5 separate regions of the Homo sapiens genome follow, and all the other regions are linked to region 1. Evidence: fine-mapped expression QTL. A gene starts in region 1. Each other region holds a variant in brackets. All regions are shown on one strand. Distances are between the middles of the regions. Region 1 holds the start of CRYZ (crystallin zeta). Region 2 overlaps FPGT-TNNI3K (FPGT-TNNI3K readthrough). Region 3 overlaps SLC44A5 (solute carrier family 44 member 5). Region 4 overlaps CRYZ (crystallin zeta). Region 5 overlaps TYW3 (tRNA-yW synthesizing protein 3 homolog).

What was found. PIP is the estimated chance that this variant, and not a neighbour inherited with it, causes the effect.
Region 2: its variant is fine-mapped to the expression of CRYZ in spleen (GTEx, PIP 0.97).
Region 3: its variant is fine-mapped to the expression of CRYZ in prefrontal cortex (GTEx, PIP 0.98).
Region 4: its variant is fine-mapped to the expression of CRYZ in lung (GTEx, PIP 0.91).
Region 5: its variant is fine-mapped to the expression of CRYZ in unexposed skin (GTEx, PIP above 0.99).

The regions. Positions count from the first base shown.
Region 1 is chr1:74,730,308-74,736,128 of GRCh38, reverse strand. CRYZ (crystallin zeta) reads left to right here and starts at 3,079. Exons shown (of 9, transcript NM_001889.4): 1 at 3,079-3,173. TYW3 (tRNA-yW synthesizing protein 3 homolog) reads right to left here and starts at 2,977. Exons shown (of 6, transcript NM_138467.3): 1 at 2,711-2,977. The coding sequence starts at 2,884. RefSeq lists enhancers at 2,363-2,462, 2,843-3,132, 2,687-3,397, 3,993-4,282.
Region 2 is chr1:74,239,428-74,246,237 of GRCh38, reverse strand. The region is part of intron 4 of FPGT-TNNI3K (FPGT-TNNI3K readthrough); the gene reads right to left. All of the region lies in intron 2 of TNNI3K (TNNI3 interacting kinase), which reads right to left. Among named protein-coding and RNA genes, the nearest start is that of TNNI3K, 7.4 kb to the right of the region's middle. RefSeq lists an enhancer at 373-1,024. The variant TAGTTAG/G (reference allele first, on the strand shown) is at 3,061.
Region 3 is chr1:75,558,661-75,565,470 of GRCh38, reverse strand. All of the region lies in intron 1 of SLC44A5 (solute carrier family 44 member 5), which reads left to right. Among named protein-coding and RNA genes, the nearest start is that of SLC44A5, 49 kb to the left of the region's middle. The variant C/T (reference allele first, on the strand shown) is at 3,516.
Region 4 is chr1:74,704,574-74,711,107 of GRCh38, reverse strand. CRYZ (crystallin zeta) reads left to right here. Exons shown (of 9, transcript NM_001889.4): 6 at 861-1,010; 7 at 3,904-4,005; 8 at 4,114-4,209; 9 at 4,651-5,622. The coding sequence ends at 4,812. Among named protein-coding and RNA genes, the nearest start is that of CRYZ, 25 kb to the left of the region's middle. The variant T/C (reference allele first, on the strand shown) is at 2,908.
Region 5 is chr1:74,765,021-74,771,830 of GRCh38, reverse strand. It overlaps TYW3 (tRNA-yW synthesizing protein 3 homolog), which reads right to left. Exons shown (of 6, transcript NM_138467.3): 6 at 5,154-6,810. Among named protein-coding and RNA genes, the nearest start is that of TYW3, 35 kb to the right of the region's middle. The variant A/T (reference allele first, on the strand shown) is at 2,653.

The DNA of each region.
Region 1 (5,821 bases):
TATTGTCACCTATGCCGTTTACACATTTATAATACTTCCTTGGTCTCTAGAGGCATAAATTTGTGACCTCTGAATTAGACTTTAGATGTAGTCCTGAAGGATGGAGCTAAGACTGAAAGGTCAAAGTTTCATGAAGGCAAACATTTTAATATTAACTTAAATTGAACAAATGTTTATTTGCAAAGTTCTATTAGGTACTTTGGGTATACACAGAACCTACCCCTCAAGGACACTGGAAAGGGGATGCAGGAAACCACATGAACAGAAATCACTATACTCAAAGTAACTATAATTTATACGATGGATCCACAAGAGACTCTGCTGTCTGCCCTTGGAACCGGGAATTGCTATGCATGTCCTAAATAAATATTTTGACTTCATTGTATGACTTCGGTGATGGTGACTTACGTATCTGACATTGTGCTGGCTACTCTGAATCTTAGAGCCAAATGTATGGCCCACTTCTAGCAACTTTACAGGATCTAGTGGTGGGATTGGCAACTAATGCCATCGCTGGCTTCATCTTATCTATATTTTCTTTATCCAGATTTTCCCACTTTTTATTTTTTCTTGTGTTGCCTGTTTGTAAGTTGCCCCAAATCCTTACTGAAATAAGGCAGATTTTAAAATAAACCATAATACGAGGTGTAAGATAAGAAATAAAAGTCTAACCAGTACAGAAGCAGTCATTACTTCCAAGTAGGTAGTATGTGTTTGTGGGTTCAGGTGGGAGAGGGGAGTTTTGGGAATCATGTCTCAGATATGCAGAGATAGGAAAACATTTCAGGAAAAAAACCGCCAAAAAACATGAGCAAAAGCAAGTAAATACAAGATGAAAAGAACAGTTTAGTTTCAGTAACTAGCTAAAGATGAAGAAAAGCAATGAAAAAAAGGTTGAAAGGTATACTAGAGTAAGCATTTGGATTTTCTGATGTAGAAAAATGTGTAATAAAACATAGCATAGGTGAGAGATAAGCAGAGTTGCAATTTGTCAAACATGGTTTGGAGAAGAATAGTTAAGTGGCTTGTTAGAGAACCATTGCAAAAATCAAGGCGAGACAGAGTTATGGAAATGGGGCAAGAGAGAGTTTGTGGGCAAGAATGCCATTGCTCTGAAGGTGATGGAAGTGATTTAAAAATGAACAGGCCCTGCTAACTTGAGAGATCAGCAAATAAATGATCAGTCAATAATGGACCTAAAGAATGAGCCTAACAATGTGCTGTCTTCCATGCTCTTAAGCCAATACTACGAATAAAATCAGTACACAGCCAACTTTTACAGTGCATGGGCCAGGCACAAAGCCAAATATTTCAAAAAAAATTATCCTATTTTCTCCACACAAAATCCCTATAAAGCAGATACTTTTTATTATCCTCAGTTCATAGAACAGGAAGGGGCAGAGTTGAGATAGCTTTCCTAAGGTCACATAGCCCGTGGTTTTTAATCTAAGCAGTATCACTCCCAAGCAGCCTTATCCTCAGGGGATATGTCCCAAGACCCCCTAGTGGATGCCTGAAACCTCAGATCAATTTCTTTTTCCTTCTTCACTTCACAATTTCACTGACAAGATTCATTCTTTCCGTAGATCTTAGCAACCTCAGCATATGCTGTTTTTTCTTTCCTTAAGTCTTTCCTTAAGAACTTTCACCTTTTCACTTCAAAAAAGCACTTTAAAACTTACTGTTGGCAGATCCAAATCGCCAGCATCATTACTCCCGTACTTTGGGGCCATTATTAAGTAAAATAAGAGTTACTTGAACACAAGCACTGTGATACCACCACAGTCGATCTGATAACCCAGAAGGCTACCAAGCAGCTAAAGGGCAGCAAGAATATATAGTGGAATATTCTGGACAAAGGGATGATTCACCTTCCATTCTGGAAGGAGCTGGTTGGCTCAAGATTTTATCACGCTACTCAGAACAGCATGCAATTTAAAACTTACTAATTGTTTATTTCTGGAATTTTCATTTAATATTTTCAGACTGCTGTTGACTGGGGTAACTGAACCTGCAAATAAGGAGGTATGGCTTGTACAGCTGCTTCTTGATTTATGATGGGGTTACATCCCAATAAATCCGTCATAAGTGGAAAATGTAAGTCAAAATGCATTTACTACCCCTGTAAACCCATCATAAAGTTAAAAAAAAAAGTCTAACCATCCTAAATTATATACGATCGTACTTTTCTCTGCGTAAAACTACTAGAGTTGTAATAATGGAGGGGCTCACTAGGAGGCAGTAAACTCCTTAACACTGGTGATGTTCAAGCATGCAGTAACAATGATTTGCCAGAGCTGTTGATGAGCGGATTCCGGCATTCAATACCTTAGCAAGCTACAAAGTCTTTAGATTCCCTTAGTATTCATATAATAAAATCAAATTTTCTAAACTTTGCCACACAAGATAGTTCCCAGGTCAGCAGTTTCAACATCATTTGGGCACTTGTTAGAAATGCACAGTATCAGGCCCTACCCTACACTTAAAGAATCGGGATCTGTATTTTAAAAGATGCTCAGCTGATTAATAGCCACGTTAAACTTTTAGAAGCACTGATCTAATCCCCTAAATTTCACATATAAAGAAACAGAGACCACCCCTCAGAGGAGCAAACACAGACATGCTGGATCCGGTCGTCACTGGATGGGAACAGGGCTCCTGAAGTTTCGCACTAGAAGGCAGGCGATGGACAGGCGCAAAGGGGCCTCACCCGGTCAAGGAGTAGGATGCGGCCAGCGCAGGAGCTGGTGGTGAAAAACTGATCTCGCATGTTCAGAAACTGCACAAGCTCTACCACATCCTCGTCAACACTGCCCTTCCGGCTGAGGTCCGCTTTGCTCAAACATTGCGCCTTCCATTTCCTGAACTCCGCGCTGCGATCCATGGGTGACGGACTCAGGGTCTGCGCTCGGCTCCTTCATGGTAGCCTCGTCTCTCCCTGGGGGCAGCCATATTGAAGCGAGCGGTGGCCGAAAAGGTCCAAACTTCCTCTTCGTTCTTAATTTGGGAAATTCTAGTGCCTTCGCCTAGGGGTGGAGAGAGGCGCACATCCTGGGTGGAGCGAGGCGCACATCCTGGGTGGAGCCTGCAAAAGTTGGAGAAGGTGTGGCAGTCCTCATTTCTGTGGAATCTGAAGAAGCCCACGCAGATTTTAATTCCCACTCTAGATTCTGGTAAGTGGTTTTAAAAACTCTCCTTAGTTGTTTAGACAGCGAATCTCCCCACTGCTCGTCCAAGTGGAACCGAGTTTGATTTTGGCTGCACCCCTTTCCTGCCCTCTGTCCTCCCAGAGAACTAGTGCGTAGAGCTCCAGACCGAAGCCATTCCCCTCCAGGGGCTGCAAGTTCCCATCCATAAATCAGGTAGGAAGTTTTGCCTTCTGGTCCTGGGCTCCTAGCCCTGGTCCTGCGTTTAGGCTCTGAGTTTAGGCTACCACACCATGAGGTGTCCGTTGGCACTACCCCTGCCCAGCCTCCGCCCCCCGCACTCCCTGTCCCCCAGCCCCACGCTGCACCCCCCCCCCCCCCCCCCGCCAGTCACCCGCTTGATTTTTCCCTGCAGCCAGTGCCTGGGTTTGGGGATTCCTGCAGCAGCGCCCAGCGGTCTGTCCAGGGCCCCTTCCCACAGCCCAGCTCTCAGCTGTAGAGGATTTGTCCTAGGTAGGGCCCCTTCCCACAGCCCAGCTGTAGGGGATTTCTTCTCCTAGGTAGGGCCCCTTCGCACAGCCCAGCTGTAGGGATTTGATTTCTTCTCCTAGGTAGGGCCCCTTCCCACAGCCCACCTGTCAGCTGTAGGGGATTTCTCCTAGGTAGGGCTCCTTCCCACAGCCCAGCTGTGGGGGATTTCTTCTCCTAGGTAGTGCCCCTTCGCACAGCCCAGCTGTAGGGGATTTGATTTCTTCTCCTAGGTAGGGCCCCTTCCCACAGCCCACCTGTCAGCTGTAGGGGATTTCTCCTAGGTAGGGCTCCTTCCCACAGCCCAGCTGTAGGGGATTTCTTCTCCTAGGTAGTGCCCCTTCGCACAGCCCAGCTGTAGGGGATTTGATTTCTTCTCCTAGGTAGGGCCCCTTCCCACAGCCCAGCTGTGGGGGATTTTTTGTCTTGGATTCCCACAATTACAGGTTTCCCGGAGCTTCCTCCAGCTTTGCCATCAGGATTGCAGTCTTTGAGAGAAATGTATAGTTTTATTGACCCTGTGACGCCCACCACCTAGAATAATCTTCAAAAGAAAATTACAAAACACCCTGTTAACACATCGTTGGATGTTTATACTGAGTTTCTAGAGGAGACTCAGTGACCAGGGAAGGTGTGTCAATGATTAAACCTAAAGGCTAAAGTTTGGAATGCTTGTCCGTAGCTAATGGAAATTGTTGTGCGAGTCCCTCTGAAGCCACTGTGATTACGTGTCTGGTTAGCGCAGCGAGTTCAGCAGCAAATCTCTCCAAGCTCTACTCCTCCAGCATTAGGGAACAGACTGCCCTGTTCCATACGATCATGGAACCTGGAGGAGTCCGAAATTATTAAACTCCTCCCCTCTTCTTACCCCGTCCTATCTCAAGTGAACAGAAGTGACCTGATAAGATCACACAGCCAGGAAGAGACTTTCTCTGACCACTTGTAATTCTTGCCTTTTTTACATTTCTGGGTTAATAATAAACCATATGCTTACATGAGTCATTGTGTATTAGCAGCAGAACAATTTGTAATGATTGATTTTTTTTCTAAGTTTTCAGTTTTTAAAATTCTTGCCAGAATTCTTATTTAATTTTACTTTTGCTCTTGTCTCATAATGTTCCTTTGCTCTGGCTTTGTGACTTGATCTGTTCATCCTATGTTAAAATATACTCCTAACATTTTCCCAATTCCTTTAATTTTCGTTTAAATCAAATGGATACAAGCATAGCCAGGAAAAAGATCACTGTTGGAAGAGGGATTTTAGATTTTCTATTTCCTAGATTTGTAAGGCATATTGGCAACCTTTCAGAGGTAAAATTAAACCAAAAATTAAACCAAGGGACTCTTAATTTTTAAAAGTTTATATTTGATAAACAGGAAGGCCTATTTGAAGTATAGTTTAATTAAAAAGCACAAGCAATGGAAAGGCCTGTCCTGTTCACAAGGATCCGATGCTAGGGAGTAATTTTTTTTTATACATTTTTAAAAATAGAATCATGTCCTTTGTATTTCTGCTGCATTCCCTGACTTAGTGGGCATTTGAGAAATTTCAAACTCTAAGCAGATGCCTTAGTCATAAAATATGCGATTCTACCTGCAGGTTAGTTTGATTTCACATTTTCTAGCTCAATCTGTCTCACTATCACTATTGTAAAGTTTATTTCTACGAAGTAAAGGGTCTTATATGCCAGCATCTCAAAGGGTGAGATGAAAAGGATGGTAAAGAAAAAAATCAGCTAACACCATTTAATTACAGGACTTGGGTTCTAGCTTTGCTTCTGTGTGACCCTGACCAAGTCTCTTAACCTCTTGTGATGTTTTCTCATCCATAAAATGGATGGCGATTTTATTTTTACTTCTGCATAAAATAATAGTTTAAATAACTTCTCTACCTGTTCTGAAAACAGTTAAGTCAATGGAGGTGGAAGACTTATGCTTTTTAGAAGAAATCCGGTATTACAGGATTTTAAGTATTATCCTATTTGCCATCAGTATGCCACGTTATTTTATTCTTTGTGTAATCTCCTTTGACAGGCTTCATCGTTATGAAGCATATGATGATCCCGTGGATAGGTGAGTTCAAAGGCAATGAGTGCAGGTTGGAGCCTGATGAATCAGAATGCTAAAGGCTCAGTGGGAGATAAGAT
Region 2 (6,810 bases), 490 kb after region 1:
TTAAAAGCCAGGCTGGGCCAAAGACCACACATTTCTAAGAATCATGTTATTTTGTGAAGTTACTGCCATACCATAAATAGCTCTATCATTTATAAGTAGGCTCATTTTATTATAAGTAGACATTTAAAACAGTGGCATTTTCATCAGAAATGATTTTGATTGCAGTATTTTTTGAGCTGAGGGAAATTGCTGATAGAAGTGAGTTAAATTCTTAACTATCTTCATGAAATTCTGAACCCCCTTCTTATATTATTAACATTTATAAACACTGGAGTTTATTGTACTTCCACAAAAGGCTTTCCAAAGCAAGTTGAGGTGTGTTTCCCAGTATTAGTAAGCATGTCTATGTGTTTTGCTGCAGGGGAACACAGAAAGCAAGAAGGGTAGGAGGGTAAAAAAAGTTTGGGAATACTGCATTCCCATGGCTGTGAAAATAAACCACAAGGCTTGCCATTTCTAATTAAAGCATTTCACTGAGGTTCTTCAATGACCCTGGATTTAGAGCCTTTCTCTTTTTAGCAGTACCCTGGAGAATAGCACTTTTTCTTTTTCTATTTTAAAATTCCAATAGCTTTTGATGTTCTTAACTGGATGCCTTGATGATAATGTTCTGAATTTATAGTACCTTTCAAGTGTAAGTACTTTACAAGTGATATGAAACTTTGGCTCACTCACCAAATACTATGCTATCTCTCTAAAGCTGCTAGAGATTTAAATAGGCAGGAGGCAGCTTGAAATTGACCTGTGAAGCCAAGGATATGATCTCATTTCTACTGAAAAATGTCCTGGGAGCACCGTGGACCTCAAGAGGTCGAGAATTTTAGCTTTACATTCCTTTTGAAAGGCTACCTGTGGCTCTCAAGGGCCCTCCTGGGGCAATGGTCTTTGTTCAGACAAAGACAAGGATTTCATTAATAGAATCACTCCACTTCTCACCAGGGACTATATCAGAGTACCCTACCAGAGTTTAGACCTTTATCTGTGAAATCTGACCCAGTCAGAGTACAAGAGAACTTTGCTTCAGGCAGAAGTTGTAATACATTGGGATTATATTCTTTTTTCCAATATCTTATCAGATGCTACTTCCCCCCACCTTTCTTTTTGGAAGGATTTTCCTGAATTTCTCCGTAGATATTATGTGAGATTTTGTGTGTGAGTGAAATGAGTTTACTTTCAGATGTCTGTTTTCTATGTATACATAATTTTTATTCATCATGGTGCTCTGAAAAGTTTAAATTATACATAGAACACAGAACTGCACATGAGATTCTCTTATTTAAACTTGATCTCTCGAACTTTTAATATTACTACATTTTCAACAGTGGAGAGACTCAAAGAATGAAAAATGCAAAGGAGGGTAAAAAGTTAAAGTTGAGATGAAAATCACTTTATTTGAGAGGGTAAACTCAATTGCTTTCTTATTCTGTGATCTAAATTTGATGATCCATTCAATAAGTCTGGCACAACACCTGCTAAACACCTACTATACGCCTCACTTCTGCTCTTAAGGCTCACTTCAGGTTGTTTTCAAGAGTCTCCTTGATATAAACTACTCACTAAATCCCGGATCCTTTGAATGCATCAGTCCTGGAAATACACATACTAGATAAAATCCTGAAATTGACTGCTGTGTTCGTCCTGATATCTAATACTCTGATCAGCTTTGCAAAACAAATGAACATGGAATAAACAGAAAATACAAGATGCCAGGGTCCATTGCTTTATTTTTAAAAAAGAAAGGCACTAGATGAATGTTTATCATTTACATAAATAAAATTGAAAGCAAAATTAATGACTCTTTATTCAACAATTGTTCCTCAGCTAACTGAATCTTGAACTAGACTTTACCATCTATAAGTGACTCAGTATAGAGTCCTAAAGAGTTCCTTGCTTTAAACTGAGCCGCTGCTTGTTGCTTTTGTTCTCCTCTTGAATTATATCCTCCTTGAACTCATGCAGCTTCTCTTAATGTCAACAAAATGAATCAACAGAGAATAGACTCCTATAATATTTGGCAGTCAAGTGTGATTTTTAATAGTACAATTTTTAGCTCAACTTTAATAACTGGAATGTACATTTTTAAAATGAGAGTTACTTTGGGGGCTATATTTGAATCCTAATTCTCACTTCCCATTAACTTCTAGTCAAACGTTTCTGTTTTGAAACATGTAATTAAAATATTCAAGATATTTAAGCAATCATTCCTAGGAGAGAAATTCCATTTTCTCTTCTTTTGCCTCTTCTAAAGTAACTGTGTATGTCAAATTCACTGCCAATTGAGCATCACTTATGTATTCTAATACCCTAAGCTCAATTTATTTTTTAATTTCCCCTTACATTTTTCATCACCTGCCATGCCACACTGTAACTTAACATATCCTAAAGAGTTCATAGTGCATGCTGGGGCATGAATGAAGTTCCTAATTAAAATAAAGCCACTATTATGAATATATTTCTAATAGTAAATGCTGTTCTTAATCATTAAAAATGATAGTTCTGTACCCAAAGGTTACTTTCTTTCTTGTAGCATAATGAATTCTTTTCCTAGCCTTTACCTTTGACCTAGAAAAGTGTGCAGTTTTGTGATCCAATTAAACTTCTTTTTCATGACCTCATCCTTTCAAGAAGATATCTAACATGACCACAAGTGGGAACTTATTAAAATGTAACATTTGAACAGTTGGCCAAAAAGTAACACACTGCTCTCCAAGGTATTCAGACAGGTAGATATATTTTAAAGCTAATTCATTGGTTAAAACTTAGGGAAAAGCCAAGAATGTAGAAAGAAGGTAAGGATTTTTTATGGGTTGTCTAGTTTCCCAAATTGATCATTTAAGTTTCAAATGGCTAGTTGCAACTTCTTGCCTATTCATTGCAGATTCTTCCCTGCCCCATGCCCTCCAAACAATAGAAGCAGACTATATCAATAAGATCTGTTTCTAATATATATCTCCAAGAAATATCCAGAAATATATTTGTTTGATATCTTGCAAATAAAATCTGCAAACTAATACTGTGAAGTATATTCATTTATTCAGCCATTCATACAATAAACAATTA[TAGTTAG/G]AGTGACAGATATGATAAAATTGGCATAATTATTGTTATCTTATAAGATTGTTGTGAAGTGTAAATAAGTTAGAGCTTGTAAAGCTTTTATAAATATTAGCTGCTATAATAGTTATTTCTATTAAGGCATTGATATTATTTTTACTGTTTTTGTATTGTTTTGCTCTTCAAAACAGGGATAGGAAAGAAGGAATCATGGAGGTACAGGATGGAAAAGAAGAAGAGATGAAGGGTAAGGGGGAGAGAAAATGATAGAAAGATAGCGAGCTACAGATGGAGAAGGAGAGGGAGAACAATAGGGAGAGATAGAGAGAGAGAGGCAGAGAGAGATTGAGGTCAAGTTGCTTCTCAATGATTTCACAAGATATTCCTGTAAAATTATGGTTCTTAACTAGTTTTACCTGGACAAACAAGAAAAGAATTAGAGAAATAGACTGACTTAGGGCATTATGAATTCTTTGTTTCCTTTTGGATTTGAGGGTTTTTTTTGTTGTTGACGATTCTTATTTTTTGTTTTGTGGCTAATTGGCAAAACACACTACCAAACATGCCAAATAATATTTTCATTCTATGTTAATTATAAGATGACATTTCCCCTTCAATATCCTACTTAGTAGTTTGACAGAAAGGGTCTACTCCTCTTAAATAAGATCAGCTTGAAAAGTTTCCAGTGCTATTCATCTTATAATAGCCAAATTTCATAGTTGGCTATAGTGCAATAATTTTAGAAGATATTTTGTTTTAAGGATGAGTATAGTGGAATGCAACAGGCCTCAGATGAACTTTTCAGAGAGAAAAGGTACAAAAAGGTGTATCTCAGAAAACATTTTTTTATTTCCTCTATACATTGTGACTATTTAATGGAACAGAGCATTCTTTTGACCACTTTTTTGTACATAATTAAACCTAGTCAATTTTAAAGTGAGGCACTGTAATTACTGACCAAGATGTATCTACTCAATGCCAAAAAAGTTGTTTTGGATTATGTTGATGTCATAGTGTTTAAAAATTACAACTTTTCTGGGTCAGGCGCGGTGGCTCATGCTTGTAATCCCAGCACTTTGGGAGGCCAAGGTGGGCAGATCACGAGGTCAGGAGATCGAGACCATCCTGGCTAACACAGTGAAACCCCGTCTCTACTAAAAATACAAAAAATTAGCCAGGTGTGGTGGTGGGTGCCTGTAGTCCCAGCTACTTGGGAGGCTGAGGCAGGAGAATGGCGTGAATCCAGGAGGCGGAGCTTGCAGTGAGCCTAGATCGCGCCACTGCACTCCAGCCTGGGCGACAGAGCGAGACTCCGTCTGAAAAAAAAAAAAAAAAGGAAAAGAACTTCATGTCTAAAACACCAAAAGCAATGGCAACAAAAGCCAAAATTGACAAATGGGATCTAATTAAACTAAAGAGCTTCTGCACAGCAAAACAAACTACCATCAGAGTGAACAGGCAACCTACAGAATGGGAGAAAATTTTTGCAATCTACTCATCTGACAAAGGGCTAATATCTAGAATCTACAATGAACTCAAACAAATTTACAAGAAAAAAACAACCCCATCAACAAGTGGGCAAAGGATATGAACAGATACTTCTCAAAAGAAGACATTTATGCAGCCAAAAGACACATGAAAAAATGCTCATCATCACTGGCCATCAGAGAAATGCAAATCAAAACCACAATGAGATACCATCTCACACCAGTTAGAATGGCAGTCATTAAAAAGTCAGGAAACAACAGGTGCTGGAGAGGATGTGAAGAAATAGGAACACTTTTACACCATTGGTGGGACTGTAAACTAGTTCAACCATTGTGGAAGTCAGTGTGATGATTCCTCAGGGATCTAGAACTAGAAATACCATTTGACTCAGCCATCCCATTACTGGGTATATACCCAAAGGATTATAAAACATGCTGCTATAAAGTCACATGCACATGTATGTTTATTGCAGCACTATTCACAATAGCAAAGACTTGGAACTAAGCACCAACCCAAATGTCCAACAATGATAGACTGGATTAAGAAAATGTGGCACATATACACCATGGAATACTATGCAGCCATAAAAAATGATGACTTCATGTCCTTTGTAGGGACATGGTTGAAGCTGGAAACCATCATTCTCAGCAAACTATTGCAAGGACAAAAAACCAAACACCGCATGTCCTCACTCACAGGTGGGAATTGAGTACATGGACACAGGAAGGGGAACATCACACACGGGGGCCTGTTGTGGGGTGTGGGGAGGGGGAGGGATAGCATTAGGAGATATACCTAATGTTAAATGACGAGTTAATGGGTGCAGCACACCAACATGGCACATGTATACATATGTAACTAACCTGCATGTTGTGCACATGTACCCTAAAACTTAAAGTATAATAAAAAAAAAAAGAAAAAGAAAAAGAAAAATTATAACTTTTCTGGAGTATTCTCATGGTTTTAAATTTCATATTATAGATTAAGCAGATACAAATTTGGCTTGACAATGAAATTAGCAAAACATAGTCTTAAAATTTATTATGATAAAAACTATTGAAACAAAATAATTTAATTGAAAACATTTGAAGTCACATGTGGAGAGCCATCACTTCCATAGTTTTTTCAAAAAGGTTGTATAATATTCATAACCAAGATTATGAATATGATACATTTTGAAATCAAATAAAGATGGATGCAATCCTAGGTAAATCATACAAATTGTTTAATCTAGTTCAAGCCAGTTTAATTTGATTAGCCTCATTTTCTCCAGGTATAACATGGCAATTGCAACACTTACTTCAGAGGGTTGTTAACATAAACAATAATGATTAAGTGTTAACTAACATTTTTGAGGGTTTGCCATGTGCCAGACACTGTGCTAAAGCACTTTACATATACACCATTAGGATTATATAAGCTGATGCACAAAAAGATACGTAGAAGCATTTCTGGCATATGGTAAGCCCTAAGTTATTAGTTTGTTTTACAAATAAGTACAAATATAAATAAGGCTAAATAAGAAAAAAAGCTGCCTTTAATGAACACATATACTAGTGGGGAGATAGACCTATAAATGGATAAAAACAACACCATGTAGTAAGTGCTGTTATGTTGATAAAGATTAGAGGCAGCACAGAGGAGGATATAATCAGACAATGGTACTCTAAGGTGCCCTTTCTGTCTTTCTTTCTCCTCCTGCCTTCTCTTTTTCTTCATTTCTTCCTGTCACCAATCCATTACCTAAACAAATGTCCAAAGTTATGAGTGAATGCAACTTTATAGCAGAAGATGAAAGAACATTCCATTTCCATTTCCCCTCTCTCCCACATCAAGCTCCCATTCCAAAGCTGCTATAAATTGGCATAAGCAGGATAACTATTTAGCTCTTTCTGTCTTACATTTAGCACTATATTGCTGTTTATTATGTTGTGGGTAAAAGCTATGCCAGGAAGATTGTGTATTCGAGCTGATAGAGCAATGGTGTATTATGTGGTGAAAAATCTCTTATAATGAATGAAATTAGCATCTACCGGGAATGCCATAAAGAAATTGGTTAGCAAATGAAAAACTGTTTACATCAGTGATCCTTTACGTTTCATGCTAGTTTAAATGTTCCTTTTTGGGCATTGTATACAGTCTCCTTGCTATCTAAATGTTTAGAGAAAGGCTGATGTCAGGCAACATAACATAATTGTTTATCACAGGAATGCTCTTTATAAGACAAATGAATAAGGGTGAGTAATGAGATTCTAACATTTATTTAGCACC
Region 3 (6,810 bases), 830 kb before region 1:
TACCATACGTGAGGATACAGCATTGGCCATAATTAACTGCTGCTGTTATAACTTTGTGCATTAGTGGCAGTTTTGTGAGGCTAGCTGAATTTTTCGTTTTACCAAGAGCTTGATTGTTCTCTCTAGACTTCTCTTTGTCTCCTGCTGAGATCTTGTTAAACATTTTGAGGATGAACTAATCAGTGTTTTGCATCCTTCCAATAAGGCGAATGCTTTTGTTTTCAGCATAATTTAATGTGAGAATATTCCGATGAAAATAGATTGAAGACTCCTTCACCAGTTATGGTCGGGAAAAGTAGGCTGGCATAGTGATGGTTTTGGGGCAGGCAACCTCATTAATGTTTAACCTGGGGAAGAGACTTCAGATAAATGTTTGTAATGGTCAACAACTTATAGATTATTTCTAATCATTTATTTTCTGATTCTCAACATTAATGGTTCTAGGTCATTTGCAGATATTAAAATTCTACCATGGCACATGTTTATCTGTGTAACAAACCTGCACATCCTGCACATGTACCCCAGGACTTAAAAATAAAAATAAAAATAGGCCGGGCGCAGTGGCTCACGCCTGTAATCCCAGCATTTTGGGAGGCCGAGGTGGGTGGATCATGAGGTCAGGAGATCGAGACCATCCTGGCTAACACGGGGAAACCCCATCTCTGCTAAAAATACAAAAAATTAGCTGGGCCTGGTGGTGGCGGTCACCTGTAGTCCCAGCTACTTGGGAGGCTTAGACAGGAGAATGGCGTGAGCCCAGGAGGCTGAGCTTGCAGTGAGCCGATATGGTGCCACTGCACTCCAGCCTGGGCGACAGAGTGAGACTCCATCTCGAAAAATAAATAAATAAATAAATAAATAAATAAAAATTAAAAAAAAAGTAAATAAATAAATCAGGGTTGCAGAAGCCATGGAGTTAAAGATCATGGGTCCTAACTTCTCAGGTAAAGAGCCAGATTATTCATTCTATTTGGTGATTATGTAAAATTAATTACAAAGCTTTTCTCTGAGTAGAAAAATAAAAACGATTGCAAAAAAAATCCTTTTGGGGGACTTATGAGAGGAAGGTGATTCATTCTCAAAATCATGATACCCAAATTGATAAGCTTTTGATAGTGATGTTAATGCTTGAAAATCAAATTTGCTCTTTCTTTACCCCAGTGGATCACTTCGACATAAATTAAGAATGCTTAATTTGAAATTAATTCTCCCAATGAAGAAACAATTCTAATTTTCCTGTAAACTGCTTCTTTGGGTTTAGCACAGTAGATTACAGTAGTTTTTGTTTTCACAGGTCAGTCTAGCCCATTTGATATTGATCAGCATATTGCAACTTGTGACAAGGAGCCAGTGTGTATTTGTACAGTGTTCTGATGTATTTGGTGAAAATGTGTTTTGATGTCATTGATGGCAAGAATTGTCACCATCTAAATATGTAGAGAGGGGTAATACACCAGTTTTCTTTTTTCTTTTTTCCTACATGCTAGAGGCTACAGATTTTAAATTTCAACAGTATAATTCAGTTTTTACCCTATATTCTCTATTGCTAATATGAATCTTTTCCAATATAACTTTTTGAAGACAGTTCTTACGATTTGCTTTAAGACAGAGCTGGAAATCATAAGCTTTTTGTGTGATTTTCAGACACCTGTTTGAAAACTGATGGAGTCAAATGCCTCAATATATAATGCAATAGAACAACTATGTTATTTGCACTTATTATGTGGTTTAGGATAATGCGGTCTTATAAATATAACAATTTCATTTACATTTGATACCAAGACCACGGTCTTGGCTTGTCTTTTATAGGAGACTTGTAAGTTCCTCTAGAACAGTATAGAAAACCATGTTCTAAATTATTTGTTTAGCTATCTGTATAATTTATTTTAAGGTATTCATTTAGTCATTCTGAATTTTTTTACTATTATTTAAAAATAATATGTAAAAATAATTTTTCTAAATGGCATTAAATATAATATCTCAACTGGGATGATACAGTAGAAAATTTCAGCCAAGATTTTGGCATGCAGAGTATGTAGAGCAGACAAAGTACATGTTTTACAGAATGGTTTCTGAATAAGACCCTTTCTTGTTTAGGTGTGACACATTTACTCATTTGAAAAAAAAATATCTACCCTTATCTTTTCATCATCTTCTGATACTTTTCTTCAGTGTTAATATGCTAGTAAGGAAATGGGTCCTGAGCTGTTAATCTCTGTAACTGCTTAATTTAGTTTTACATTTCCCACTAAAACAAAACTATTCTTGAGATTTTCTGTGAAACTCAATTTACATCCCAAATTCTTTTATTTTCCTACCAAAGGAGGGATTCTTTTATATCCATACTTTTATAAAGAGTTCTTGTATAAAACTACATTATGATGATATTAAGATATATGTAATCTATATTTAAAATCCACAGAATGTAATGATTGCGTATCAAAGAGAAAAGGTAAGAAACATTTCAGTAGCTGAAAGAAACACAAACTAACCTCAAGCAGACCAAAACTTTTGAAGTGTAATATACAAGTGTTTTTGTAAAAATGTCAGTGTTTTTCCTTGAACTGTTTCTTGAGTTGTTTCACATATTGAGGATTACTATGGTATCATGACAGCTAGAACAGAGTATAGGAGCAAAAAATAATAGACCACTAAGAAAGATAAGTGATCACCCATTTGAAAGAGAGACTGTGAGAGGATACAGATCCTGAATTGGCATAAGGTAAGGATTAAGGAAAAATTACTCAAGACTTAAGAGACGAAAATTATATATATTTTTTTGTGACAGAGTCGTCTCACTCTGTTACCTGGGCTGAAGTGCGGTGGAGCCATCATGTCTCACTGCAGACTCCATCTCCGGGCTTAAGCAATCCTCCCCCCGAGTAGCTAGGAGTACAGGTGCAGGTCACCATACTCGGCTAATTTTTGTAACTCTTATAGAGATAGGGGTTCTCCATGTTGCCCAGGCTGGCCTTGAACTCCTGGGCTCAAACGATCTGCCTACCTCAGCCTCCCAAAGTGGTATGATTACAGGTGTAAACCACTGCACCTGGCCTAAAAATTATATTATCTTAGCAATTTCTTTAAAATTCTCACTTACAAAAATAATAAGAAAATTGTAGAAAACCTGGTGATATAGTTTTTGGGTTTATTTCTAAAAACAAAATGAAAGAAGTCTAAGAATTAAAAACATTTTCCATAGAGGAGTGCTGATGGATCTGGGGTAGAAAAAAATTCAAATAATAAAAAATCTGGGAAATACTAGTATTTCTTATATGACTACCTCCAAGAAGGAGTTCATCAAAATTTTATCAAAATATCCTAAAATTGTGTTTCTTTTAATTTTTTAAATTTATTTTTTAACTTTTATTTCAGGTTTGGAGATACATGTGAAAGTTTGTTACATAAGTATACATGTGTCACAGGATTTTTTTTGTACATATTATTTTATCACCAAAGTATTAAGCCCAGAACCCAATAGTTATCTTTTCTTCTCCTTTACCTCCTCCCTCCCT[C/T]CCAAAATTGTGTTCTTATAACAAAAAATATTACATTAATGATGGCTTGATAAAAAGTACAACTGCATCTTCAAATAAAATTTTCTCATTTTGCTTATTCCAATGCAAATCAGATTATAACTGTCACTCTATGGTAAATTACAATAATAATACACAATGAATTTAAAATAACCATAGTTTAACAGTGAATGATAACCTCAAACATGTTTGCTGACCAAGTTGAAAATGCCAACTCTTATTCTGCAAACAGTAGAGATAGGGTTATCAGGATGTTGGAGAGATTTTGTGAGATAAAATAGTTAAAATGTAAAAGCATTTTATTTTCCTTTTAATTTTATTCAGCCAGCAATTGTAGGACTCTTCCAATGCTTCCTAAATGTTAAATGCATTCAGTGTTTATTGAATACCTATGATATTGAAATATTGAGGACCTACAGTATTGAATGTTATAGGTGTTAGTGACATAGGAGTGAAAAATACCAAAGTTCCTTTCCTCATAGTACTTGTACTCCTCTGGGAAGAGACAGACAATAATAAAAGTAAAATGACAAATGCATGTAAAGTATGCCAGTGGGTATTAAATACTATGAAAAAAAGTCAGGGTAAGAGTAATTTGAAAAAACAACTACCTTATCCTCGTTTCTTTGTAATGAAATATTTCTATTCTTGTCCTTCTTTTGTCATGAAATTTACTAATAATAAGCTCTGAAAGTATACTGGGAGACTCCATGTATAATTACACATAATTGATTTCTCCACTTTTTGACATATTACAAAGGACAGATTATGATTCTAGTAAATTTGTATCATGCAGAGAAAAGATTTCAGATAAAAGTGATCCATGAAAATAGAGACTGACATCTTGTTTCCTTTAAGAAGCCACAACTAAATAGCTGGCAAAGTGTTGAATTACCCTGTGGACACATGAATGGGAGTCTTGGCGAGAAGTAGTTTTAATCAGAGGTAGTTTTTAACCTTATTATTAGGACTTTTACATCAGATGTAGCTAAATAGGATGAGGTACATAATTTGTTATCAACATAGTTAATGTATTTATTGGTATTTATTGGTATATACTGAAAACATACCTTTAAAAGGTAACTAAATTAGAAATCTGAGTAAAATGTCAACTGATTTGCAGATATAGTAGGTGATTCGTAATAGGTGATTAATAAACATCTTTTTCAGGGACAAGCCTGTTTCAGTGAGTAGAAACTGAGCTTCTTCCATCTCTGGAGGCACTGGCTGAGTCTTGGGGCACAGGGAGGCAAAGGACCAAATCTGCCACAGACAAAACTTTACTGGGACAATTAGAAACCAGGCAATTTTTAAAGTGTACTTTTGTAAAAACTGCTTTATATAATTCCCATGCTATACCAGTCAACTATTTACAGTGTCCAATTTCATTTTTCTTTTATGATATTCACAGAGTTGTGCAACTATCACCAGAATATAATTTTAGAAGATTTTGTCTCCCCTAAAAGAAACCCAAAACTCATTAGCAGTCACTCTCCATTCCTCCAACCTCCTGCCAATCCTAGACAACCACTTATCTACTTTCTGTCTCTATAGGTTTGCCTATTTTGGATACTTTATTCAGACTTTTAGTGGCTAAATATTATTCCATTGTATGAAAATATACCACATTTTGTTTTTCATTCATTTCTTGATGGACATTGGGTTATTTCCACAGTACATCTATTGTTAACGTAGCTACAAACATATTTGTACAAGTTTTTCTATGGATATATATTTTCATTTCTCTTGGGTATATACTTAGGAGTGGAATTGTTGTATCATATGGTAGTTCTACCTTTTTGAGAAACTGTGAAACTGCTTTCCAAAATGTCTGAATCACATTACATCCCCATCAGCAATGTATGAGGGTTCCAATTTCTTCACATCCTTACCAACAGTTGTTACTGCCTAAATCTTTTTGATTATAGCCATTCCAGTGGCTGTAAAGTGATATCTCAGTGTGGTTTTTGACTTGCATTTCTCCAATGACTAATGATAAACATCTATGCATGTGCTATTGGCCATGTGTATATATTCTTTGGATAAATGTCTCTTCCAATCCTTTGCCCATGTTTTACTTGGCTATTTGTCTTTTTTATTGTCAAGTTATAAACTTCTTTATATATTCTGGATACAAGTCTCTTTTTAGATATATGACTTGCAAGTATTTTCTCACATTCTATGGGTTGTCTTTTCACTTTTCGGATTGTATCATTTGGAGCACAAAATTTAAAAATTTTTAGTGAAGTCCAAGTTATATAGTTTTTCTTTTGTTGCTTATGCTTTTGATGTCATGTGATAAACATTTGAATGTGTATGCAAGAAGCATATACTCTGTACTGTGAACAGTGCATATAAAAATCTTGAATGAAATGTCATCCCAGTTCAGATACTGCCTTTGCCTGTTGCTCACTAGGTGAAATGCAAAGTTCTCAATATACTACTCAGTGCTTCCAAGTGAACTATCCGATATTATCAGATCCAATATTTGGTGCTAACTGACCATGATAGCCAGAGCTTTCCTTTTTATGTCCCAGCCAATTCCCTCAGTCATGGTGCATTTCCAGATCTGTGCTTTTGCTTGTGCAGTTCCTAGCATTTAGGCTGTTCTGCTTTCCTCTTGTTTGTATTCTGTAAATCATTTAACACCCTATTCCAGTTCTGCTTCTTTTTCCTTTACTGCTCATCATGATTTCCTATTACGCTTGACTGAGCCAGACACTGAGTACCTATTAGGAACTGTTTATATATATATATAAAGTACTTTAACAATTACATATATATCATTTCCATATGTGTATATATAGATATACAAACTGTAGTTTCTAATAGTTTGTACATTTCCACTTAACACTTTAAGAATATATACTCTTATTGTTTCATGGTTTCATGTTAATAAGACTTTTCTTAGTAGATAACAGGCTTCTTGTGAGCAAGTCAATAGCTGCACTTCTACCACAGTGCCTGAAATGTGGCAGATGGTCAAGAAGCATTTAGTGTTGGCTACTGTCTGAGACCTTTTGGAATCTTGTTTGAGTCTCATCAGTAAGCTTATGACTTTTATTTAATAATTATAATAAGTTATTTTACCTGTTTTGATTCTGAGGAAAAGAATGTGTGACCAAGATCACTCTGCACTTTCCTTCTCTTTGAATGAGTTTAATTCTACATAAATATGTTTTTCTCAGGTCGGAAAGTGTTGTTTTTATAATAATGACTCAATATTGAAGTCTCAGGGCCTACATCAAAATATCGCAAAGTTGTTGTTGATAAAGAA
Region 4 (6,534 bases), 25 kb after region 1:
TCTTTGACCCCAACTGCATTCCCACCTCGCCAGGTTAGCCATGGCCATTCACTATGCCCACAGCATCCTCCACGTGGCTGACCGGATGTTCTCGTGGCTTGTTCCTCACTTTTTTCAGGTCTCATTTTTTCAGAGTGGCTCTTCCTGATGACCTAAATAGCCCCTATTCCTGTCTCTTTAACCCAACAGCCAGTCTTATTTTTTCTTAGCACTTTTATTTCCTGAATTTATTTTATTCATTCATATGACTATTATCTTCCTCCACCCTTAGAATATAAGTTTATTTCTTACATTAAGTACCATGTCTAGCACATCGTAAACACTCTATAAACATTCACCATATGGATGAATTAGTTAATTTGCCCATATACCTATCTCTTCTACTTAAATGGTGGAGGCCTTACATTTGTTATTTAGAATTTCATATGCACAAAGAAGTCAGAGAGCATGTTCTGATCATCTTTAAACCCTGCAAACATCTTGATGCAGTGGTTAAAAACTCAAGTTCTGCAGTCAGACTGGTCTAACTCCTGTTTCCATCTCCGCATATGACTTGGCCAAATTACTTATAATTTGAAGCTTCAACTTTCTTATCTGTACAATAGGGACAATAATAGTATCTACTTTATAGGGTCATTGTGAGGATAGAATAAAACAATATGTAGAAATTATTTAGTATGGTTCCTGGAATATTTTAAATGCTCAATTAAAGTTAGCTGTTTTTCTTATTTCTTCATTTACACTCTTAAGTTCCTTAAAGTTAGGGTGGGTCCTATAGGAATCTTAAGTTCATTGTATGTATTTAAGTGTTTACAGGAGTGTAGAGAATATATAACTCTTGGGTTATATTTGTTTTTCAGGTTGGATTAGCAGCATGCCAAATTGCTAGAGCTTATGGCTTAAAGATTTTGGGCACTGCTGGTACTGAGGAAGGACAAAAGATTGTTTTGCAAAATGGAGCCCATGAAGTGTTCAATCACAGAGAAGTGAATTACATTGATAAAATTAAGGTAAAATTTTCCACTGTTTTACAAAAGTCAAACTTTGTTCCTTGGAGACTTGCGTGGTTTTTTAATATGTTTTTAACCAACTACTCCTTTAAAGCTGTTTGCTTCCTTTTTTCAGTGCGATGAATTTTTATGCGTGTTTTAAAACTTTATTTAAAAAACAGATGTCTAAGTTTTAAACTTTTACTATCATTTTTGTATTGTTTATGTGTATTAAATAGAATATAGCTTCTCTAGAATCTTATAGCTATAAAAATTGATTTTTTAATGCAAATAACATTCTAAGTAAAGCTGCAGCTTTGTATTTGCAGCTGTGAGGTATTCTTAATATAATTTCTACTGATGTGAATTCTCCATGGAAGGTGAGATATCTGTAAATTACAAACTGGATCTGTGTGGCCCAGGGAATAAAGTTCATTTGTTAGCTGGATGCTTTGGAGGAATAATCACTACTGCATCCAAAATGGTGAGGTGGCATTTATTTAGTTGCTGCATTTAACAGAATTCAAGCAGATTCTGAAGTTCTTCACTTGTACTATATTAGCAATTTGCTAAACACTTATTGCTTTGCTAATCCTCAACCACTTCCTCACGTTAGGGAGATTAGAATTTCCCAAATATTGAGTACTGTGTAAATTAGATCATTACAAATGAAGGAAAAAATAAGAGTGAGAGTTTATTACCTTTTTTGCAATCATCTTGCCAAAAAGCCGAACAAAAGCACTCCTTTGTTATACGTCTGGGGAACCTAAGATCTAGCACTGCTGATACCATTATCCAAGAATATTCACAAAGATGAAAAATGGCCCGTTATTTTAAGAGTATGGTTTTTGTTCAGCAATAATCTAATTTTAAGACCATGAGGTCTTGGGAGCTTCCACTGACTCCTTCTGCTTAAGTCTCTCCCATTCTCAAAAACATTCTCTTAACCTTTATCTTACTCCCCTTTCTCTTCTCCTCTTTCCCACAAAACTTCTTGAAAAAGTAGTATTTATTGCTTTTACTTCCTTACCTTCCACCACTTCTCACTGCAGTTTTGCTTATAGCCCAAGTATTTATACTGCTTCCCAGAGGTCACTGAGAAGCTCCTAATTAACAGTCTGCTGGTCTTCTTTCAGTCTTCATCTTGTTTGATTTTTCAGGAGCATATGACCCTGACCACATTTCTTTGAAACAGGTTCTCTTCTTACTTTCCTGACTTTTCACTTTCAATCTCCGCCCTCTTCATATTATTTAATATTAATATTCCTTAGGTTGTTTTTGCTTGGTCTCTCATCTTCCCTGGTGCTAGACTTTCATCCTGATCAGTCTCATATACTCTTGTGGCTCCCTTACTACCCATATACTGTTGATTTCCAAAACTGTCTTTGGCCTGAGTTCACTTCCTTCATGCCATCAACCCGCTAGACATTGCTACTCATCTGGTCGCCCAAGACAGAAACCCTCATTTTGTTTGTTTTTCCTGTCTTTTAATTATCATTCTCCCTCCCACCCAGCAAGTTGGTTACCTCATTTTATCAGTTTCATCTCTGACATGCCTTTCAAATGTATTTCCTTATCTCTATTCCACTGACCACCATAACTTAGTTTAGGCCTCAGTTTCTCCAGCCTTGACTGTTATTCATAACTGAGCTAATACACCCTTTTATCTATGCTGTCATCTCCCTCTTAAAAAAGATCTCCAGAAATAAATAAAATGGAAGCTTTATGAGGAGAGGAGTTTTGTCTCTCTGTTCCCTACTGCACTTGCACATGCAGTAATAAACCCCTGTAATAAAAAAACAAAACAAAACAACTACAAAAAAAACCCCACACAATCCAAATCCTTTAATATGGCATTCACTGTGTTTTCACTATCTGTCCCAACTTACAGTCTCCTCTCTCCTACCTCTTCCTCTCC[T/C]TGCCACTCCCCCTTACCTGATTATGTACTTCAGTTCCTCTTGTATTTCAATCCTTGTGTTCTCAGTCCCCTCCATCTTTGCTTTTCTGTTTCTTTGGTCCAGACTGACTCAGCCTCAGGTCTAGCTTCCCCTTACTCATTTTCCTTTCTTTTGGCTTGGGAAACTCCTATTCATCCCTGAGGGCCCAGTTCATCGTCTCTGTGGAACTTTATCTGACCATGGCAGGCAATCAAACCTTAACCTTTTTTCTCTGTATTCTATGATTTATTTCTGCTAATGTGTTACTTAGCCCATTACTTTATAGCTATGACTGTAGTATTTCCCATCTTTCTCACTAGTTTTGTTTTGAGCTCCCTATGTTTGTATTTGTATTCCTGGTACCTAGTGCAATCCCGGGCACAGGGATTCATTTGTGTGTGTGTGTTAAAATAAAATGAATATAATGTAGATGTGTGTAGCTTTTTGTAAGAGCCAGCGTCCAACATCCAAGAGCCCAAAAGAGTTAGTGCATCAAACAGATGATAAACCATTTAGAACAAAACCAAATGCACTAAAACAACAAAAATCATGCAAAACCGAACAGCTAATGATATCTTCTTTTGCTTTTTGTTTATTAATAAAAATGGGAGCCCCCTGGGGGTTTGGGGCTTTTGATTTATTGTTTCTTTATGAAAGTTTATTTTACAGATAGAAAATTTTCAGCTAAGTATTTTATACTCAAGTTGAGTCTAGCACCTGAAAATTCCAGACAAACTTTATTTCACTACAGCAATGTATTTAGTACAAATTTTTATCAGTTTAGATGTTCTGGCTGGTACCTTGGAATTACATCGTGATTATATAATTAGATTATTTAAAATTTTGCATTATTAGTCTCAAAGATGTAGCATTTATATATCATTTGAAACATATTTCTATAATATCTTGTACAGATAGTAGCTATTTTACAGTTTTTCACTTGCTATCTTACTCTACATTTCTCTTTTATTATATAGAAGTATGTTGGTGAGAAAGGAATTGATATAATTATTGAAATGTTAGCTAATGTAAATCTTAGTAAAGACTTGAGTCTTCTGTCACATGGAGGACGAGTGATAGTAAGTATTCCTTTTCTTTTTTTTTTTTTTACCACTTTAATGTTTTACCACAATTTAACACTATTTTACAGTAATCTTTAACTGTAGAATTGCTGTTTTTCATGTTAGGTTGTTGGCAGCAGAGGTACTATTGAAATAAACCCACGAGACACCATGGCAAAGGAGTCGAGTATAATTGGAGTTACTCTCTTTTCCTCAACCAAGGTAGGAAAAGAAGTACTTCTGATTTTGGTAACTTAAACATTGGTACAGTTTGCCTACTCAGGCAAGCTGAAAGTTTGAATAGATGTTAAACTTAGTTATATGACTAGTGGGAGTTGGTAAGGATTAGTCACCAGAAGGACAACTAGGGTGACAGTATAATTTATATCCAGGTAAGCATACCTTTTGAGATAGAAATGTGATACTAGTAATAATTTCAGGACAACAGGTATTTTGTACACTAACACTGTCTCAGGCAGATGGGATTTATGGTTACCCTGTAGATAACTACTTTTTCTATAGTTCTGGACAAGTTGACAAAAGTCACACATTTGTAAGAGACTCTTCATGGTATAACACTTAGATTCTGAAGTGTTTTTAATGCTTCTGAAAATTAAATCATACGGTTCACTACAAAAAGAAATTTGTTTTTCCTTTTCTTAGGAGGAATTTCAGCAATATGCAGCAGCCCTTCAAGCTGGAATGGAAATTGGCTGGTTGAAACCTGTGATAGGTTCTCAATATCCATTGGAGAAGGTGGCCGAGGCTCATGAAAATATCATTCATGGTAGTGGGGCTACTGGAAAAATGATTCTTCTCTTATGATGATTAATTCTTTCATGGATTTCCTATGTAATTAGAGGTACTGTCTTTCCCCCAGTTGTACTTACCCTATCTTTTCTTTAATTAACATTCGATTCCATGAGCTTCTTATGTGAAAAAATAAGATTTTTCTTTAGAGAGCAGAAGCAGAAGAGTAAAATTTATTGTATAGCTAGCAATATTTTTTTATGCCATCTGTCTCAAATCAAAGAGTCATCATAGTAGGAAATAACATGTTAGTTGTCATTTGGCATGAGTGTGCATTCCAGTAATTCTTAATTGATATTTGATTAATTCCATACCTTTGATTAAAACATGCTAGTTCAAAATAAGACTGCTCAGTTTCCAAGGGTTTTCAAGCCTACTTACCTTTATAAAGGTTCTCTAGTCTCTGATTAGCCATGACTGTATTGGACTTTGAACATTTTCTGAACTAAAAACCTCTATTCTAAACTAATCTCATTTGGATGTGTAAGTCTTTTGTAAAGGCAAGAATAAATAATATCCAGGACAATTTATTAGTTTTCTCAGTATTTTCCCAAATATTAGAATATTTACTTCATTATTGGTTGGCTGCCAATGACCCCATATGTTCTGTGAGAATAGTAGCTTTATCTTTGATATAATACATAGTCTCCAAATAGGTAATACTTCGCAATTGATTAGATTTTCAGAGTAGATTTAGAGTTATCTGTTTTTCTGGTGAGGGTCAAATATTTTTGTTAATTAAGCTCACAAATTTGATAAATTAAGAATTATCTGCATTTGTCTCGTAACATAATAATGTGTAATAAAGTCTATAGAAAATTAAAACCTGCTTTTCTAGTTTTTATATTATTTGCCTCTCATCACTTCTGCATAGCTCCTGACAGTTACTTCTTAACAGTGTTCTATGCTGGAAGCCTTTATCTAAACTAAATACAGGGATGACCTCTTAGCAATCTTGCCATCAATATTATATTCAAGAAAATAAAAGTTCGGTTATTTGTTGTTTTTGTTTTTCTTCACATAAGCACATACTTTTGTCTTGCTACATTATGTGATTGATTGTTTTGACCTGATTTTTTCTGTTGAATGACAATTTCTGGCTTGAATATGGAATCCTGCTTCAGGAATAAACAGAAAACACCGCTAATTTCTATAGTTGAAGGATATCATTGGCTTCTGGTTGTATGTGCCATGGCTGAAGTGTTTTTTGCTATTAGCATTTTCAAGTTTATCCACTGTTTCTTTTACAGGTTAACTACCCTGTAAAATTACTTAAAAAAAAAGTGTTAAGGCAATGTCATCAACATAGGCTGGCATTTTATGTGCATCCTAAAATGGAGGATTCCTTTCCATGTAAACAAGGTAAAAGAATAATTATTCTGTAAAAGTCAGTTTAATCTGTTTGTATATTTGCCTCATCTATAGAAGGAGCTAAAGCATACAGATGACTTAACACTTCAAAATACATTGATACAGTTTAATTAATTTTGAAGCCAAAACTAGCCAAACTGTGTGCATTAACTACCATATTTATGATGTAGCACTGGGTATGTTCTCTGCATAAATCTCTGTGGTTTTAGTCTTGTCCCAACTTTCAGCCAACTGCATTCACTACTTGGTTGGTGCCTGTGGCCTTAGGGCTACTACATAGTCTTCAGTGCCCATTCTTGATGAAAAGTAGAGAATAACCTGTATAATAAACAAACATTGTTTAACTCAGTCTTTTGGATTTCTGTT
Region 5 (6,810 bases), 35 kb before region 1:
CAAAGTTATTTTCTCCAAAGAGTTAAGGACAGTTTATTTAAGTCTTATGATGTCACAGAAAATAGGTGGGAGTTGATATGAAAAGCTGAGGAATAAAAAAATTCATTAAATGAATATAATGAGACAGTATTTCAGTATATTAATATGAACATTCCCGCTGCTATATCACAGAGAAATGAACTTAGTAGACAGTTTTATATGTCATTTCTGTCAACACATCTCATGGACGATGTAAACTATAAGATCTAACCTTTGAATAATGATTATTTACTGATTATTATAGACTGATGAATAATTCTGTAATTTAAAAAGAGAAAATGCTGTCATGAACACACTTATTGCTTAGGAACTTTGTTTCTAAATGCCAGTCCCCACCGAAACGAATTGGGGTTCTTTGGCTGATTCTATGACTGGGGGAGATGAATGTACAAGATGAGCCTGGAAGGCCTCCTTGTGCAAGATAATGAGGAGATGCTCAAACACTGAAAGAGATACGTTAAAAGTAGACAGGGGTCAACTTGAATGGACTCCCACTGGTCAAATCTGGAATAATATGAACATTAAAATAAATAATGATAGCAATGGATTATAACCTTTTGAATCAAACAAGAATCCATGAGTTCATATGTGGGGAGAGTGTGTGAAAGCAAAGCTGTCTTTTAAAGTTGAATGCCAATTAATAAATGTAGAAGGAATAATGGAGGTAACAAATCATTATTTTGCAATCATAGTAATAACTTATTTGGAGAGGAATAATCAACAGATGCTGAAATTAGTGGGTAAAAGTTGGATAAAAATAGGTTATTTACATATTCTCAAAGTAGAGCATCCTTAAAATTTCTTATTAATTACAAAAGGGAAAATTACCATTAAACCTAGCAGACACCACATTAGCCAAGAGATCAAAGTTAACATAACCAATAATGGGACAAACTGAAATCCTGTACCCACTGAAGTCATGCTTTGACAAGAACACATCACTTATATAATATTCTTGCTCCAAATGCATAGTTTGAACCTAGTTAAAAATGAATATTAAAAATATAAATCGATGGCTATTAAATTTTCCTGTATTCTTCAAGCCTGTCAATGTTATCAAAGGCAGAGGCTTATAACCAATTATGTACTATTAAACAAGATTAAAGAAATATGAAACAAAATGCAATTCAGTTTATCCTACAAAGAATATCATTGGGACAAATGATGACATTTGGATAAGTTTTGCAGATTATATAATTATGTTGTATAACTGTTAGATTTCCTGATTTTATAATTTTTCTGAGATTATATGAGACTTTCCTGGTTCTAAAGAAATATACATTGAAATATTTAAGAGTGAAGAGTAAAATATATTTAACTTACTCTCAAAAGTTTGTATATTTATATGAGATTATTCATATGTACTGTATGTCTGTATATGAGAGAGAGAGAGAGAATGGTCACTCTGGGTAAAGTATATTCAGGAATTCTTAGTGCTATTATAACTTATTTGTAGATCTGAAGTTATTTCAAAATAAAAAGGCTTTCAAAAGGCTTGGTGTGAAAAAAGAAAGACAAGACCTATCATGTTTAGTCACAAGGTATATCTTGGAATACTAACATCTGGAAATTTGGATATTTTGTGAGATATAAAGAATAGTATTATGCATGTGTTTAGTGGCTTCTAAGCATCTTTTTTTTAACTTCAGTCATTTAACTTTATCAATTTCAAGATTCCTTCAAGAATTGAATAGTAATATAATTTGGTTAGGGATTTTGTCATTTGCTTATAAAATAATGAATTACATAATACTCATGAACTCTCCCAGCTACAATGCATTTATAAACCAGAATAGAAAGTAGTTGTTAAAAAAACAACAACGTCCAAGATGCTGGGGATATAAAAATATTGGAAAAACAGCTTTGTCCCTCAGTTAGTCAAAGTTTAATATGATGGTGGTGATGGATAGATATATATGTATGCAATTAATAGCTACCAAGAGATTTCTTGGTTTGTGTGGTTATGTAAGTATAAACAAAATGCTATGTATATATAGTACTGGGAAAGTGCTATGGAAAAACAGGAATGTAAGAAGTTAATTATGAAATGAGCTTTTAGGAAAGCTTCTCAAAAGAGTTAACATTTGAGCTGAGCCCTGATTGATGAGTAAAATTTAAAGAGCACTAAAGATCCTAGGCAAGTGCCAATACAAACAAAATCTTTAATAATGTTACTAGAAGGAAAGCTCTATGAAGGCAGAGTCCTTGTCCTGTTGCATGTGACTGACATATAGTGGGTGCTCAAAAAATATTTGTCATGTAAATGAATAAATAATAAAAATGGCATGTAAACAATCTGGTTATTGAGAAATAGTTCACTTTCTTCTTGCATGGTTTAGATTTGGTGGTGGTGAGGACATTCTTTTCAATTATCCTTGGAATAGCTAAAGAACATAGATCATTTCTATAATATACAAGTGTATGAAAGGTTTGTGTAAATATAATTTATTGAAATATCTGGGAAAAGGTATATAGAAAGAAATAATTATTAGAACCTTTAAATAATCTGCCTCTGATTTGAAAATGAACCAAAAAGAACTAGAAATAATTAAATATAATCTTTGAAATGTAAAACTCAATGGACTATCTAGGCAGTAGATTAGACACAGTTGA[A/T]GAGGGTATGAGTTAACTAAACAATAACCCGAGTGAATGACACAGAATGACACACATAGAGATGAAGAGAAGCTGGTGAAGGGGGATGAAAAGATTAGACAATATGGAGAATAGGCCCATAAGTAGGTATAATATAGGACTAATAGACTAATAGTTACAGGAGAGAACAGAATTGAAGAGAGATGAAGAGAGGCATGAAATATGGATTTTAGTCAAGAAACATCAATCTTGGCTTATCAATTGTAACAAAAAGTCCCACACTAATGTAAGATGTAGGATATATAAGATAAAGGATATCATGTGTGGGCAGATGAAGTGGGTACATGGGAACTATCTGAACTTTTTCTCTCAATTTTTCTGTAAACCTAAAACTGTTCCAAAAAATGTTATTAAAATAGATGAATAAATAAATAAAATTTGCAATGAGTTAAAGTTATAGTTTAAATTCAACCACATTAAAGGCAAAACCAAAAAGGGCTCATAAATTCTTGCTTGGCAAGAATAGAATGCATAAAAACCCAGGACATTAAAGGACTGTTAAGTTTAAAAACATTAGCATTTGTGAATATTAAAATCCTATTGCATTAGAGAAGCGTGAATGTTGACAGAAGCCCAGTAGAGTATGGAAAGAAGAGGCTTGAAGGTCAAAGCCCATTTTTAAAAGCCAAAAATCATAACTAAAAAATAGTCACTATTATACACCTTATATGGGAGTGTAATATTTACTCCCCGCAACTCCAGTCAAATTAAAGCCTGCTCAAGGAGCCATCTATAAGAATAAAGATGGTGATCATTTTTCATGGCTCTTCAACACTTAACCCAGCAAATCATATAACTCATCTCAAAATGGAGAAAGCCCTTGTTTTCAAAACGTGGTGCTCATCACTGCCTTTGCTCACATTTGAAATCAAGTGGCTCTGAAAAGGACTACGGTTTACTCCATCTAAGGGTAGCCACTGAGATCTTTGCCCTAGCTTCCAAAACATCCACCCTTGCAGGCTTCCAAACAGCTACCCATTGTCCTGGAACCCAAGGGCGCCACATGTGAGCAGGAGTCAAGTCCTGGCACATCACAGAATCTGCAGCACTCTGCCTCTTTCTCAATGTGGGGAGGAGGGTTAAACACCCAGTTGAGTGGGAAGGCACCCATTTCCCTTAAAGCACCAAGCCTCACGTATGTGCAACCTGTGCAGCTTGCATAGGGCCCCGTGCTTAGATGTACCTGTACGTGATTTAGTGCTCCGCTGTTGCCATCTTGTAATTCTTAAACCTTTTTTAAGGGTCCCACATTTTCATTTTGCACTGTCCTTTGAAAATTATATAGCTGATCCTGCTCCCATCTCTTATTTATTATATAATATACTAACATAATAATAGACTTTAATTCTCCCCAAAGATCTAACCAAAGTTTGCCAATGCTGGTGCCCACAGGGACCAAACAATGTGTAAATGATTGAAGCAGTTGTGTCAGGGAACCAGTAGGGGGTGCTGGGTCTGGGGTGAATAGGAAAACAAGTCTTATCCAAAAGGAGGAGCTAGTACTTGAACGGCTAAGTGTTGTCCTGTGGGAATGTGAGACGGCTCCAGCCAGATCTTCCAATTAAAAAAACACACACAAAACAAACTAGAGATGCGCTTTATAGTTTTAAATATTAAATCATCATATTTTAAAATGTTGATTCAATTAGAAAAAATATACTCCATGTGGGCCAAACAAAACATATCTGCTTGGCCATAACTTGGACAAGTTACAGCTTATGACTTCTGGCCTAGAACCTCAAAAGCAAAAGCATGTTCCTTAGTTTCCCTCCTTGTTTTTCAATAAGGTTGACTTCATTTTTCCTCTCTCTTTTAGAACACAAAAGCAGTTAACTTGTAGGTGATATGAGGAATCCAGACCGTAGGAATAAATGCTTGCCTTCATCCTGAAGGAAGGAAAAAAATCATTTTATTTTGGATGGAGCCACTACAATGAAAACAAATATAATGCCATTCTCAATAGGCAGGTTATGGTGTGTATTAAATTATTACTAAACTGCTGTGTTTCAGTTATTGATATTGGTGATCAGGCATAAATAAAACACATAAATAAAATAGTTGTGTGTTGTTTAACAATAGAAACATGTTCTGAGAAATGGGTTGTAAGGTGATTTAGTCACGCAAACATCACTACTGGGCCTACATGGTGGAGCCTATTGCTTCTAGGGTACAAACCCGTACAGCATGTTAGTGTGCTGACTACTGTAGGCAATTGTAACACAATGATAAGTATTTATGTATTTAAACATATCTAAACATAGAAAAGGTACAATTAAGATATAGTATAACAGGTGAAAAATAGCACATCTGTGCAGGGCACATACCATGAATGGAGCTTGCAGTACTGGAAGTTGCTCTGGGTGAGTCACTGAGTGGTGAGTGAATGTGAAGGCCTAGGATGTTCTGTATAAACGTATTACTGTATAAACTTTATAAACACTGGACACTAAGACTACACAAAATTTCATTAAAAATGTTTTATTTCTTCAATAAATTAACCTTGGCTCACAATGAACATTTGGTTTATAAACTTTAATTTCTTAAAACTTTTTGACTCTTTGGTAATAATGCTTAGCTTATTGTACAGCTGTACAAAATATTTCTTTATATCCTTATTCTATAAGCTTTTTTATATATTTTTTTTAACATTGGAAAAACCTTTTTGTGAAAAACTAAGATATAAACACACACATTAGCCTAAGCCTACACAGGGTCAGAATCCTCAGTATCACTGTCTTCCTCCTCCACATCTTGTACCACTGGAAGGTCTTCAGGGGCAATAACACACATGAAGCTGTCACCTTCTATGATAACAATGCCTTCTTCTGGAGTACTTCCTGAAGGACCTGTCAGAAGCTGTTTTACAGTTAACATTTTAAGTAGTATACCCTAAAATAATGATAAAAAGCATAGCAAAGACACAAACCAGTAACATATTATCAAGTATTATGTATGCACTGTACATAATTATATGTACCATACTTTTATATGACTGTCACCACAAACGTGGGTAATGTGTTGTGCTACAGCTTTACAATGACCACATCACTAGCAATAGGAATTTTTCAGGTCCATTATAATCTTATGGGGCCACCATATCGTATATGGTATATGGTCCATCATTGATGATTAAAATGTTATGTAGCTCATGAATGTATATTAAGGAATGTTAAGGAGTGAATGGGATTCAATGTCTTCTTAGGTTTATGGCCAGCACCTGGTGTCTCCTCTCTACTAACCTTATATAAACAGATTATACTATACTATACCTTATATAAACAGATTAGGAAGCAGCCCCTCTCTTCTTAATTCTCATTCATATATTCAGTTTATGGAATCTTTAAAATACATAGTTTTCTTGGAGATCAATTTAAATGAATGAAGAAAAGTCAATGAGCCTCTTAGATTTTAAAACTGCAGAATGTGTTGTCATTTCACCACAGGATAGGCTCGTTCCACCTGCACTCTCTCTTTCCTACTGTTATTTATAACTTTTTTTTTTATTCATTTATCTTCTCTTTTCATTTACTGCACTGCCAGGCAGATACTTTCATATTCTGTCCACCAGACTAGAAGAAATGCTCCAGGCATTCCGACACTGTGAGTTCCCTTTCCTGCCCAAATTTCCTTCCCAGAAGGACTGCTGTATATGTTGGTAGATAAGAATGTGCACTGCACAACTTCGAGTGCCACTGACATTGTCATCTAGGGGAATGTTCCCTCCCAAGTGGTACAGAGTTCAACTTACATAGCTGAACGAGTTGCCATGCTTTCCTGGAAACTGCCTTAGACCCAATGGTAAGGACTATAACTTACCTAAGCTCTTGCTTATTCTCCTATAAAGTGTACACATGAAATCCCTGGCACAGGTACACTGCAACATCTGTTCATGTGACCCTTTTTCTTTTCATTAGAAAAATCTTCAATTCCTCCTCAAATGCTGTCTCCAGGAATAAGTCTGTTATCAGTGGGTTCTAAAAGTGCTGGACTGATTTTATCAGAACCACTTGGATGAGTTGTGTGAAAAATAAAGATTCCTAGACTCCAGGATTAAGATTCTGGTTTGGAAGATCTGCGGCAGGGCCTATTAAAGTAGCATCTCCATGCCTCGTCCTGACC